Regions from separate parts of the Homo sapiens genome. Here regions 1 and 2 are each reported to be linked to region 3. The links are microRNA targets in miRTarBase. Many come from high-throughput screens and were not tested one by one. Region 3 holds a microRNA gene; each other region holds the end of a gene's coding sequence.
Evidence for each region. Region 3 holds the annotated microRNA hsa-miR-548k (AAAAGUACUUGCGGAUUUUGCU, at 2,257-2,278, shown strand). A microRNA usually pairs through its seed, bases 2 to 8, with sites in the 3' UTR of a target mRNA and lowers its output. Matches are read on the target gene's strand: a 7mer-m8 pairs with bases 2 to 8, a 7mer-A1 pairs with bases 2 to 7 and ends in A, and an 8mer does both.

Region 1: the mRNA of UHMK1 is a reported target of hsa-miR-548k. Seed matches in the 3' UTR shown: 8mer at 476-483, 8mer at 1,083-1,090, 7mer-A1 at 1,334-1,340 and 7mer-A1 at 2,053-2,059.
Region 2: the mRNA of ANGPTL3 is a reported target of hsa-miR-548k. The part of its 3' UTR that is shown has no 7-base or 8-base seed match.

Annotation. Positions count from the first base shown.
Region 1 is chr1:162,522,171-162,526,170 of GRCh38, forward strand. UHMK1 (U2AF homology motif kinase 1) reads left to right here. Exons shown (of 8, transcript NM_175866.5): 8 at 234-4,000. The coding sequence ends at 380. Among named protein-coding and RNA genes, the nearest start is that of UHMK1, 26 kb to the left of the region's middle.
Region 2 is chr1:62,604,159-62,608,158 of GRCh38, reverse strand. ANGPTL3 (angiopoietin like 3) reads right to left here. Exons shown (of 7, transcript NM_014495.4): 6 at 3,924-4,000; 7 at 1,846-3,526. The coding sequence ends at 3,342. The region is part of intron 14 of DOCK7 (dedicator of cytokinesis 7); the gene reads left to right. Among named protein-coding and RNA genes, the nearest start is that of ANGPTL3, 8.6 kb to the right of the region's middle.
Region 3 is chr11:70,281,730-70,285,882 of GRCh38, forward strand. It overlaps MIR548K (microRNA 548k), which reads left to right and starts at 2,226; the gene lies at 2,226-2,341. All of the region lies in intron 2 of PPFIA1 (PPFI scaffold protein A1), which reads left to right.

The sequences.
Region 1 (4,000 bases), not on the chromosome of region 3:
TGAGGAAGTATTCTAAACCTTGCTGTCCTGAAGTATAGTTCATAGACCAGCAGCATTGGCATCACCTGGAAGTTTGTTTAGAACAGAAACTCAGGCGACATCTCAGACCTAAGGAAGCAAAATCTGCATTTTAATAACATCTCCAGTTGATGTATATATATTAAAGGTGGTAAAGCACTGGTCTAAAACAATCTTGGTGGAAATGAAATGTTTTTTTCTCTGTCTTCTTTCAGGTCTTTGTTGAGTATGCAAATGCTGGTGATTCCAAAGCTGCGCAGAAATTACTGACTGGAAGGATGTTTGATGGGAAGTTTGTTGTGGCTACATTCTACCCGCTGAGTGCCTACAAGAGGGGATATCTGTATCAAACCTTGCTTTAATCAGTAACCTAAGGACTGTTTCCTTTTTCTCCTCTTCCATTTCTTGGGTTATTCCACATATGAATGCAGGACTACCCCCTTACCATTTTAAGAAGGTACTTTATACATTTATTTAATCCTACTAATGTGCAGCCATTGCCCAAGCAGTGACTGCGTTGCATACATTTGGCACTGAGTAGGACAAGACCTCTCAGCTATACATTGAGGGGTTTTAGAGCATCCATGTGGGCAACCCTTTTTTGTGCGGGAGAGCAGGTGTTGCTCTTCAGTATGTAGCCTAAAAAAATCTTAATTATTTCATGGATCATGAAGCAAGGATGAATAATATCATGTCTTGGTAAATACTAACAAATTTGTTAGGTTTGGTGACATCATTTACAGATTATTTCTTTATGTTGTCCAGTGGTTCTTCCTTATTGTTGATATCCATAAGCTGGCACTGGATGCTCTCAGTAATGTTAAGTAATTGTCAAGCAGCAGTTACCTACTGTGTTCTTAACACTGAGTTGTGAATTTTTTCTTAAAGCAGTACTGTAGTACTGAATATTCCTTTAAAGGAACTGCAGTGAGCCTATCTAAGTTTTTTTAAATTAAGGCTTTTAAAATAGAAAGCTGATGCTTGATCTTGCACAATTTTTATGTCTAGTATGTATGCTTGAGTGAATGTGCGAGTATGAATGATTAGAGAAAATTTGAGTCAGTGTACTTTATAGTGTGAATCCTGTGAGCTAATACAGTCTATACTTATTTCTTCCCTACCTGTTTCACATCCGTAAGATTTAAGATATACATTTTTTGAGAGGTAGTCTGTCTGATACAATGTAAATGACAAAACATAATTCCTGAGAGGCCCAGAACAAACTGGAGTCTAGCCTGGAGTTAAATTGAGACTTCTAAAATGATTGGAACAAAGACTAAGTTGTGCCAGATGTAAATCAACCCCTCTTTTAGTTTACTTTAGACTTTGTATTAGCTCATCTTTTTTGTAGTAAATCTATAGTTTTAAGGTTTCTCAAGATGTGGCTCTACCTACTATGATGAAAATTGAAGTGGGTCAAAAGAATTAGATGTACAGTGAAGGGAAAAGAAAAAAAATGGGCGAAGAGAGGGTGGAAAATAAAAGGATTCTTTTTTCTTCCTTTCTGTTTCTCGTATCCCTGCTCCCTTTTTCCTCCCCTTCCCTCATTCTTTGCCTCTATCCTTAGCTGAAGACAAACTAGAGGAGCAGCATCCCAGGTAGTTTGGCTTTTGACTGCAAGGTAGTTAAGAAAGGTGTAGATATAATGAGGTAGAAGTAGAAAGGAAGAAAAACTCAAAGAATTCTTAAAAGGATTCATAGCAACATAATGTGTCCCTGAGTAGAGGATGCTGCTATGCGTGAGTTCATGGACACAAGTTGATTACATGGTTTTTAGAATTATAATTATGGATTCTTCTTATTTCATGGTAGGTTGTCTTTAAAGATATAAAAATTAGGATGCCTTTATGAAGCACTGATTATACCAAAAAAAAAAGACAAGTTATATACAGGTTATTAATTTTTTTATTTATTTATTTTTTCCTAAGGAAAAAGTCTTCTATCTTTCCCTGCTGGAAGCCTCCTCATATTTCCTTATGTTTGCCATGCAGGTTGCTGAGAGTCCAGTTAGAATTTGCATTTTACAGAATGAAATACTTTACCCCATTCAAACAATTATTGTTTGACATTTTAGTTATTTATAATTGTCAAATTCAGGACTCTCCTTTAATGTTTATTATGAAACCAAATTTGGCATAAGGAGGCTGATTTATGAATTACCAAAGGGTCTTGTGGCATGTTCCCCAATACATGCCCTTAGAAGGAAGAACTATTATTTTTTATTTTGGCCCTTTCAGGAGTTGATTATAAATTGGTTTGTTTTCAAGTCAGAATTCAAGTGGGCAGAACCCGTATTGTGAAGACCTAAACTTTCCTAAATGTTCATATGGGTAGCAGATTTTGTGGTGATTAGAAACATCAGGTCCTTAAATACGATGAACATGGGATACAAAGGAATTCTTTATAAGGGCAAGTATCCTAAGTTAGCACATTTACTTTTCTCTCCCCTCCGCCCCCAAAAGAAAAATCCTTACAAATAAACTGCAGGTAGGCTTCTAAGCCTAGTCCTGCAGTATGCTGCTAACATCTTGATGCCAATCTTCACAGCATTCTTTGATTGTCATCTTATTGCTGATACATTCATACATATATTTAGTGCTTGACACTGTAGAATTTTGTTACAGAAGATGGTTACTAGATTTTAAGGGAGCTGAGGGAATAATTGATGAGCCTTGAATTAACCATGCATTTAATTAGATTTTTTGTTGTTGTTGTTGTTGTTTTGAGATGATGTCTTGCTCTGTTGCCCAGGCTGGAGTGCAGTGGCTCAATCTCGGCTCACTGCAACCTCTGCCTCGCAGGTTTGAGCGATTCTCCTGTCTCAGCCTCCCCAGTAGCTGGGTTTACAGGCGCTTGCCACCACACCTGGCTAGATGTTTTATATTAAAGCCAGAGAATTGAAAAAGAAATGCCTCCTGTGATTGAAATTATTTTATAGCTCTTAGCCCGTTCTACCAAAGATCACATTAGCAGATTACCCCTCCCTCCTGTGATATTATCTTTCTTAAACCTGAACCAAATATCAAAAGATACAAGTTTCATGATTAGGATGAAATATATACATAGGGATTTTGGTTTATTGAAGTTATTGAAAGACCTAGAAATTTTCTTTTTGAGAGAAAGGGTAAAGAGGTGAGGGTTCATGTCACTTAACCCCTACCCTTTTGGGCAAATTTTGTCTCAGGTAGTGTTTCATTCCCTAAATTAATACCTGTGCTTCCTTGCCTCTCACCTTCCCAGTTACTTCTTTGGGGTATTACTGTGGCACATTGTACACCCAGAAAAGGCACATACAGTGATTATTTTGTGGGAAATACTTGATTCTTTTGAAATATATTTGGAGGGGGTAGCTAGCTAGCCACTGTCAAAACTAATGCTGTATTTACAGGACAAAAACAAGTAGAGTTGGACACCTCAGTAAGAGACAGCATTAACTAAAAGTACTGACTGCCTTTTAAAGGAATTTTTAAAACTATTCTCTTGCAATAAGAGATCCGCATTTATTACCACTGGATGTCTTCCTTTTTTGTGGCCACCAATATAGCAGCTCTCTTTAGAGGGATTCCCTTTCTGCTATGCCTTGAGCCAAACTGGCTGCTTTTAGAACAAAAACCATAAGTATGGTTTTACTCGAACTTCTCTTTGTTTTTATTGAGAGAAATATTGCCTTCTTTTTGGTACTCCAGCTGCTAAAGAGTGCTGAGATATGTTAAATTATTTTTTAAAAGAAAATCTCCAAATACTTATTTAACTTGTCTTCTAGATTCATGTTGCTTATATTTTAACTATTGAGCAAGTTTATTATAAGGAATGCTGCCATATAGAGAAAGCTGAAGAGAAACCATGGGCAGAAGGCTTTTTTCTGTCTTATTACACTGGACCTTCACTCTGGTAAGGGCATCAGTTACTTTTCTGGAATAAAAGGCGGAGTTAGAGCACTTATCAGATGCTGTTTCATGGCTTGTTTTAGTTAATTTATCAT
Region 2 (4,000 bases), not on the chromosome of region 3:
ACATGACACATCTTCTAGGAACATCACTTTTTAAATACTTGGGGGGAAATAAATATTTTTATATGAAGATTTTTTTTGAGACAGAGTCTCACTCTGTTGCCCAGGCTAGAATGCAGTGTTAGGATCATGGTTCGCTGCAGGCTTGACTTCCCAGGCTCCAGCGATTCTCCTGCCTCAGCCTCCCAAGTAGTTGGGATTACAGGCACCTGCCACCACACCCAGCTAATTTTTGTATTTTTTGTAGAGGTGGAGTTTTGCCGTGTTGCACAGGCTGATCTTGGACTCCTGGGTTCAAGCAGTACTCCCGCCCCGGCCTCCCAAAATACTTGGATTACAGGTGTGAGCCACTGCAGGCATGAAGATAGATTTATAAAGTATAAAACACAATTCATATGCAATTTTAAAGTAAAATTCTAAGATTTAAGCTAAGATCCCAATAAGATTCTGAAAGAAATTTGTGCATATAGTAAGTTATTTTATCCTGTAACTCCAGACAATAAAAGGATTTGTTTTCATTATCCTCTGCTGTTACACTTCTTCAGTAGATGAGCTTGAAAGACACAGGTCCAGGCAGTATGCAGCCATTACAAATTCCTTTTCGGAAGATTGACAGGGAGAGGGACGTAAAATTAGGAGGAAAGAAGAGACTACTTATATAATCTAGCACTGAAGTTAAAGACAGTCTTTGGGGAAGAAAGCTTATAAGATTAAGAGACGTTTCAAGAGAAGATTGTATTGAACTTGGTGGCTTATGATACAAAAGAGGTAGTTTACAAAGTTGAGTGAAAAGCCAGAGATGTCTTCCGGGTTCCAGGCTTCTGTGACTGGGAACATGCTGGTCATATTAATGGATATAAAGAAGTGAGGAAGATGGTGTGAAAGAGTATAAAGGAGGGAAAGGTGGGTAGAAAGGGATAGCAGTAGCAGTAAGGGGCTGGGGAATTTGTTATTTATTTTTTTTTGAGTCAGTCTTGTTCTGTCACCCAGTGCATTGGTGTGATCTCAGCTCACTGCAACCTCCGCCTCCTGGGTTCAAGCGATTCTCCTGTCTCAGCCTCTTGAGTAGCTGGGACTGTAGGCACATGCCACCACGCCTGGCTAATTTTTGTATTTTAGGTAGAGACGGGGTTTCACCATATTGGTCAGGCTGGTCAGACTCCTGACCTCAGGTGATCCACCTGCCTCAGCCTCCCAAAGTCCTGGGATTACAGGTGTGAGCCACCGTGCCTGGCCTTTTATTTTTGGTATGTTGAATTTGAGTGAAGTATAGGGTATTGAAGGGAGAAATGGCAAATAGGCAATGTAAGAAGGGGAACTGGAAAGAGACTTGGGATGAATATGTAGATTTTGGAACTTTATTCATGGTAAATAAAGGAGTCCGTGAGAGCAGATAGAATGTCTGAGGGTCAGTGTAGAAAAGATGATTGAAGGTTGTCCATTGGCCCACAGTACTAAATATGAGAAAGGAATAGGGTTATAAAGATGGATTCAGATAAGGGATAATCCATGGAGAGTATAGTATTGTGAAAGCAAAATGAAGGTCAAGTTTGAAAAAAAGATATTCTTATTATTAAGTAGTAGAGAGATAAAAGGGAAGGTAGTCTGAGAGATCAAAGGGGATTAGACTTAGATTAGACAACTGTGAGTAGTGATGGAATTTGAGCACTTTAAGCAAAGTAGTTAGGACAGGAGACAGTCGTGTGAACCATAAAGAGCTCCTTTCTCTTCTTCTACCAGAAGTATCTTTCTGGTAGAAAAAAGCTTTATATGGGGAAAACGTCTAATTTACTACTCCTGAAAGGAACAAAATGAAACATGTCCTATGAGAGTTTTTTTTTTTTTTAAGGAAACCAAATAGAGGAAGCAACTCATATATTAAATAATGAATTATTTTGCATTTGAAATTGTCCAATTTTGGGGGAAGAGAGGAGCCATTTTGGTATTCTGGCCCTAAAAAAATCAGCGTTAATTTCGACAGCTTAGTCTGTGGTCCTGAAAATTATAGATTATTTTTACCTTTATTATTTTGTACTTTTCTGGAACAAAATATTTACTTAGGATTCACATAGATCATACATATCTTTTATATATGTGACATATAAAAATATATATGACATGTATATTGGATAATTTGAAATACATAATGCTAAGTATTGACAAAGGTAGGTCACCATATAACTTGGGCACTATATCCTTTAACAAATGGGTTTAATTTAAAATTTCTTACTGGCAGTTTTAAAAAATCATATTTAAAAATAAATTCTGACAAGTGATACTGTGGTAAAAAATTTGTATCTAATCTTTAGGGATTTAGGGATTTAGGGATCTGTTGTGATGTCGATAAACATGCAAGAATAATTTAAATTTCTATAATTTAGGGACTGGGTCTTTGTTTATTGAATTTTAAACATATATACATGCTTGTCAGGCTGTTTAAACGTTCAGTAACTTGTTACGAGGTTTATTTCTACTTGAAAACCTACACGAATGTATTAGAATCACAGCATATTTAGGGGAAATATAAACTTTAACTCGATGCCACAAATATGTTCATTCTTACTGTAATCTGACAAGATTCCTTTACAATTATTTGTTTTCATAGTATTAAGTGTTAAAATATATAAAATGTATACAGTATATATTTTAACAAATAAGGTATAGTGATACCTCATGTTAAAGTCAATGTGACTTAGTAGTCATCTCCATTTGTTTAAAGACAGCGAACTTATTTTAATACAGTATTTAATTCTGCTTCATTAGGTTTCATAAATAAATCATATCAAACATTTACTCCAAATTATTTTGTAGCAAAATGAAGCATCAGTTTAAAAATTTGTATTACAGATTTTTACACATACTCTGTGCTGACGATTTTTAGTTTTGAAATTAATACTACAACATTTAAGAACTGTACAATTACCAGTCCTCTGTATTTAGTCAAGTTTAGAGTTTTAACAAGAGTACTAGTTTTTTAAACTGGGAAAGTTGTGATATTAGCTCATATGATGCCTTTTAAAATAAAAGTCTCTAAATTTTTTATTTAGAAAAGTTATTTAATAAGTTCACCTATTGATTATAATCTAGATTGTGACCATCTAAAATTGATTCCCACATCACAAAATTTAAAACAAATAGTATTATAAGAATTTTGATTGAGAAATGTAAACGGTATTCTTTAAGGTTATGTGATTGTATGTTTAATCTTAAATAGACAGTGACTTTAAGATAAAAAAAATCTATTTCTCAAGCTTTCTCTTAAGGATTTAATACCAGATTATTAGACCACATTAACTTGGAATGAGGTTAATGTTTAAATTATTGCCTTTTAAATTTGCCTCAGTTCATTCAAAGCTTTCTGAATCTGTTGGATGGATCAACATTTTGGTTGATTTTATAGAGTATAACCTTCCATTTTGAGACTTCCAAGATAATCCTCTTCTCCTCTCTGGCTTAGATTTTGCTCTTGGTTTGTTATATTTACCATTTAGGTTGTTTTCTCCACACTCATCATGCCACCACCAGCCTCCTAAAGGAGATAGATATGCAATTTAATGGGTACAGACTCGTATGTAGTTACTGTTACTGTATTTCCCCGTAAGTTTATCTTCCTTTCTTATAAATATTACAGTGTTTTAGATGCATGTATCCCAGTTTTAAATAATCTGTATAAGTCCCAATTTTAAATAATCTGTATAAATAATCTATACACTACCAAAAAATAGAAAATCTGAGGAAGATTAGAGGTAAAATACCTGATTGAACTAGAATGAACACTTTCATTATAGTTAAGAGGTTTTCGTCTAGAGAGAAAACGCTTATTTGGGATTCGGATTTTTAAAAGTTGTCATTGCAGATAATAGCTAATAATGTGGGAAGATACTTTGAAGATATGAAAATAAAGTATTGGTATCAGAAAAAGATACCTGAATAACCCTCTGGACAGTTGAAGTGTCCTTTTGCTTTGTGATCCCAAGTAGAAAACACCAAATCTTTGTTTTCC
Region 3 (4,153 bases):
AGTGGGGGCTCTGAATAGTGGACTCACCTCAGTGGGCCTCTCTTTGGTTTGGAATGTTGGTCCCTTCATTTGTGGCTGCCTTGGCATCTCTTTGATGCCTGCAGACTTTCAAGTCATACTCACCTTTTCTAGTTTTTGGTGGGTTGCCGGGCTACAGGCCACCCCGCGTATCACTGAAACTGGAGCTGAAGCGGGCGTGCTCTCTCTGTCTGCAGCATATGCGGAGTCTGGAGACATTGGTTATCATTACTTGATAGGGAGCATACAGAACCCACTCACCTCGCTTAGGCTACCTTGTCCAGTTTCTTTTTTTTTTTTCCAGTCTGCTTCTCATGACATTGTCCAGTTTCTAATCAGAATCCCCCATTTGCCCCTGCCCAGTCACTTAACCACTTAAAGACAGTAGAGCAAGTGGCCTGCCCAGCGGGAGACACAGCCCTTGGCCTCCAATTCCCGTCTTGGCCACTGTGTGGGCTGTTCCACCCTGCTGTAGTCTCTACTCTTCCCCATGCCCTGTGTCAGACCGAGGGAGGGTTTGTGATGACATATCTGGCAGTGGCAAAGAAGGAGGCTAGGGAGGTAGGAGAGGTTGTGTGCGTGGTGTTTAGTCTTACTTTGGAGATGGGGTCTTGCTGTGTTGCCTAGGCTGATCTCCAACTCCAGGGCTCAAGCCATCCTTCTGCCTTGGCTTCCTGAGTAGCTACCACTACAGGCATGAACCAGTGTGCCCAGCTACCTAATGTTTATTCTATGACTTGATCCCATGTATGTTTCCTTTTTGAGTGCTGATTTTTTTTTTTTTTTTTTTTTTTTTTTTGAGATGGAGTCTTGCTCTGTCACCCAGGCTGGAGTGCAGTGGCGTGATCTCGGCTCACTGCAAGCTCCACCCCCTGGGTTCACACCATTCTTCTGCCTCAGCCTCCCCAGTAGCTGGGACTACAGGTGCCCGCCACTACATCCAGCTAGTTTTTGTTTTGTATTTTTAGTAGAGACAGGGTTTCACCATGTTAGCCAGAATGGTCGCGATCTCCTGACCTCATGATCCACTGCATGCCTTGGCCTCCCAAAGTGCTGGGATTACAGGCGTGAGCCACCGTGCCTGGCTTTTTTTTTTTTTTTTTTTTTTTAAGAAGGAATTTTGCTCTTGTCGCCCAGGCTGGAGTGCAATGGTGCGATCTCAGCTCACTGCAACCTCCATGTCCCAGGTTCAAGCGATTCTCTTGCCTCAGCCTCCTGAGTAGCTGGGACCATAGGCGTGCATCACCATGCCCGGCTGATTTTTGTATTTTTAGTAGAGACGGGGTTTCACCATGTTGGTCAGGCTAGTCTTGAACTTCTGACCTCAGGTGATCTGCCCGCCTCAGCCTCCCACAGTGCTGGGATTACAGGCATGAGCCATCATGCCTGACCGACTGACCGAGTGCTTTTTTTTTTTTTTAAAGCAAATATTGCCTTTGGGCTTCTCTCTAATTTCATTTTAAAGTTTCAGTTGCATTTTCAAATGGAGATTTTATTTTAAACTGGAGTGCAGTGATTTTTACAGTCTTTTTGAAAGCAACAAATGAGATTTTTAGAAGACCTCTTGCTTGAAGAACTCTTTTGTGTGAAACCTAGAAGAGAGACTGTTCACCTTTCATTGCAGGTGAGGTCCCAAATTTTGCCAGTCTCTCTCCCAATCTGCCAATCCCTGAAGCAGGGGGTACAAAACTCAGAAGATTCTAAGGAATGAGGTCTTCAAATCAAATCCAAACTTAGTGAAAAAGAAGTCTACCTGTGTCAGGGGTGTTCCCTGTCAAAGTGATGGGTGAGCTTCAGCTGGTTGCAGTGGAAGGTGTGCTGGATGGATTGAGGAGGCGAGAGGGTGCAAGACAGCCCATTTAGGAGGCAGTTCCTGCAATGTGGGCATGAAGTGTTACAGCCCAAACTAGGATGCTAGAATCCGAGGGCAGAGGGCAGTAGAAAAGAACAACCTGGCGGAATTGTGTAGGACTAGAGGATGACAGCCGAGTGGCAGATACCAGGGTCAAGCTTGCGGGGAGAAGGGGGACGGGGGTGGGGGAGAGTAAAGAGGAGACGCTGGTGTTTGGTGGTGTTGAGAGGTATTTGTGGTTGTCACAGCTAGGGCAGGGATGCTCCTAAACATTCTGCAGTGGAGCCCCCTCAACAAAGAATTATCTGGCCCCAAATGTTGGAAGTGTCCAGGTTTAGGTATAAAGAATCAGAAGCTTTTCTCAAGTATTGCTGTTAGGTTGGTGCAAAAGTACTTGCGGATTTTGCTTTACTTTTAATGGCAAAAACCGCAATTATTTTTGCTTCAACCTAATATGATGCAAAATTGGCTACAACTGTAATTTGTTGAGTGCTGCAAACAAGGTACTTGCTAAGCTTAACTTTAGTGAACAAATTAGGAAGAATTGGAATAAGGTAAAACTAGCTAAATGACTCTTCCCTGAGAATAAATACTAATGACTGCCCCTTCAGATGGTGCCCCCTCATCTGCTTTACTGACTGTTTCTTAGTAGTAGTTGGCAAAACACCTCTTAAAATACCATACTTGTTTTCATCGTCTTTGGTGTATGAAATAGTTGAATATATCCTTTCAGAATAATATTTGGCCATTTACATCTCTCTTTTGCACACACTGAATTTGCCATCTTGTCTTCCTGTTCCTACACCTTTAATTGTCAGCAAGGAGACAGAGTCCTTCCTCCTATTTTGTTGAGCCCTGTGTGAATATTACCGTTCTAGGCTCCTGCAGTCAGTGGTAGAGACAGGGTCTCTGCCTGCAGAAGACTTTCACAATATACCCATGCTCAAAGCAGGTGCAGGTTGCGAGACACATCCAGATAGAATGAAGTGGTTCAGAAGAAATCCATGATCTCGACTGAGTGGGGTGGGCTGCCAGGCACACTGTGGTCCAGAAAGGTGAGGCTTTCGAGGGGATTGGCTTAGAGCTGAGGGATGAAGGCTAAGAGGAACCAGGTATGAGAGCTTTCTTGGCGGTGGGGCTACTTGAGCAAAGGCCAGAGCAAGGGAGAGCTTAGCATTTAGCTGAGTCAAAGCTGGGGTCTGTGGCCATGGTTACTTGGCCTGGAGGGAAGGGAAGAGTGAACATGGTAAGGTTGGCTAGGTAGGTTGGGATGGGATCAGACAGAGGTGAAGACTTGCTTGTTTTTGTTTTAAGTACCTTAGGGCTTCAGTACTTTGCGTGCATCGTGGCCTCAGGGGAGGGAATGATGTGATTTAGCTGCGTTGTTATTTATTTATTTTTATTTATTTATGTATTTCTTTATTTAAGATGGAGTCTTACACTGTTGCCCAAGCTGTAGTGCACTGGCATGATCTCGGCTCACTGCAACCTCTGCCTCACAGGTTCAAGCGATTCTCCTGCCTCAGCCTCCCAAGTAGCTGGGATTACAGGCGCCCGCCACCGTGCCCGGCTAATCTTTAGTAGAGACGGGAGTTTCACCACGTTGCCCAGGCTGGTCTTGAACTCCTGACCTCAGGTGATCCTCCCTCCTTGGCCTCCCAAGTTTTTAAAAGATCATGCTATGTGGATAATGAGCTGGGGATGGAGGGAAGAATGGACCTAGGGTGGAAACCACTGGTTAGAGTAGAGCCACTTCAAGTGCATGGGTTTGGGCTATAAAGTTAGTGCTGTGAGCAAAAATTAAAAACTCTTGCCGGGTGCGGTGGCTCATGCCTGTAATGGGAGGCCGAGATGGGCAGATCACGAGGTCAGGAGTTCGAGACCAGCCTGGCCAACATGGTGAAACCCTGTCTCTACTAAAAATACAAAAATTAGCTGGGCGTGGTGGTGCGCAGCTGTAATCCCAGCTACTCGGGAGTCTGAGGCAGGAGAATCGCTTGAACCTGGGAGGTGGAGGTTGCAATGAGCTGTGATCGCACCACTGCACTCCAGCCTGGGGGACAGAGTGAGACTCTGTCTCAAAAAAAAAAAAAAAACCTCTTAACATCACCCATCACATAAGGCACAGAACAATGTGTACTTTTTAATTATCATATACATAAATGCATACTGTTTTCATGCAGTATACATAATGTTTATGTATATAGTGTATACATGAATGTATTCAGGTATTTTGAGTGTCTGTATGTGGCATGCACCGTTCTAGGTGCTGAATATTCCATA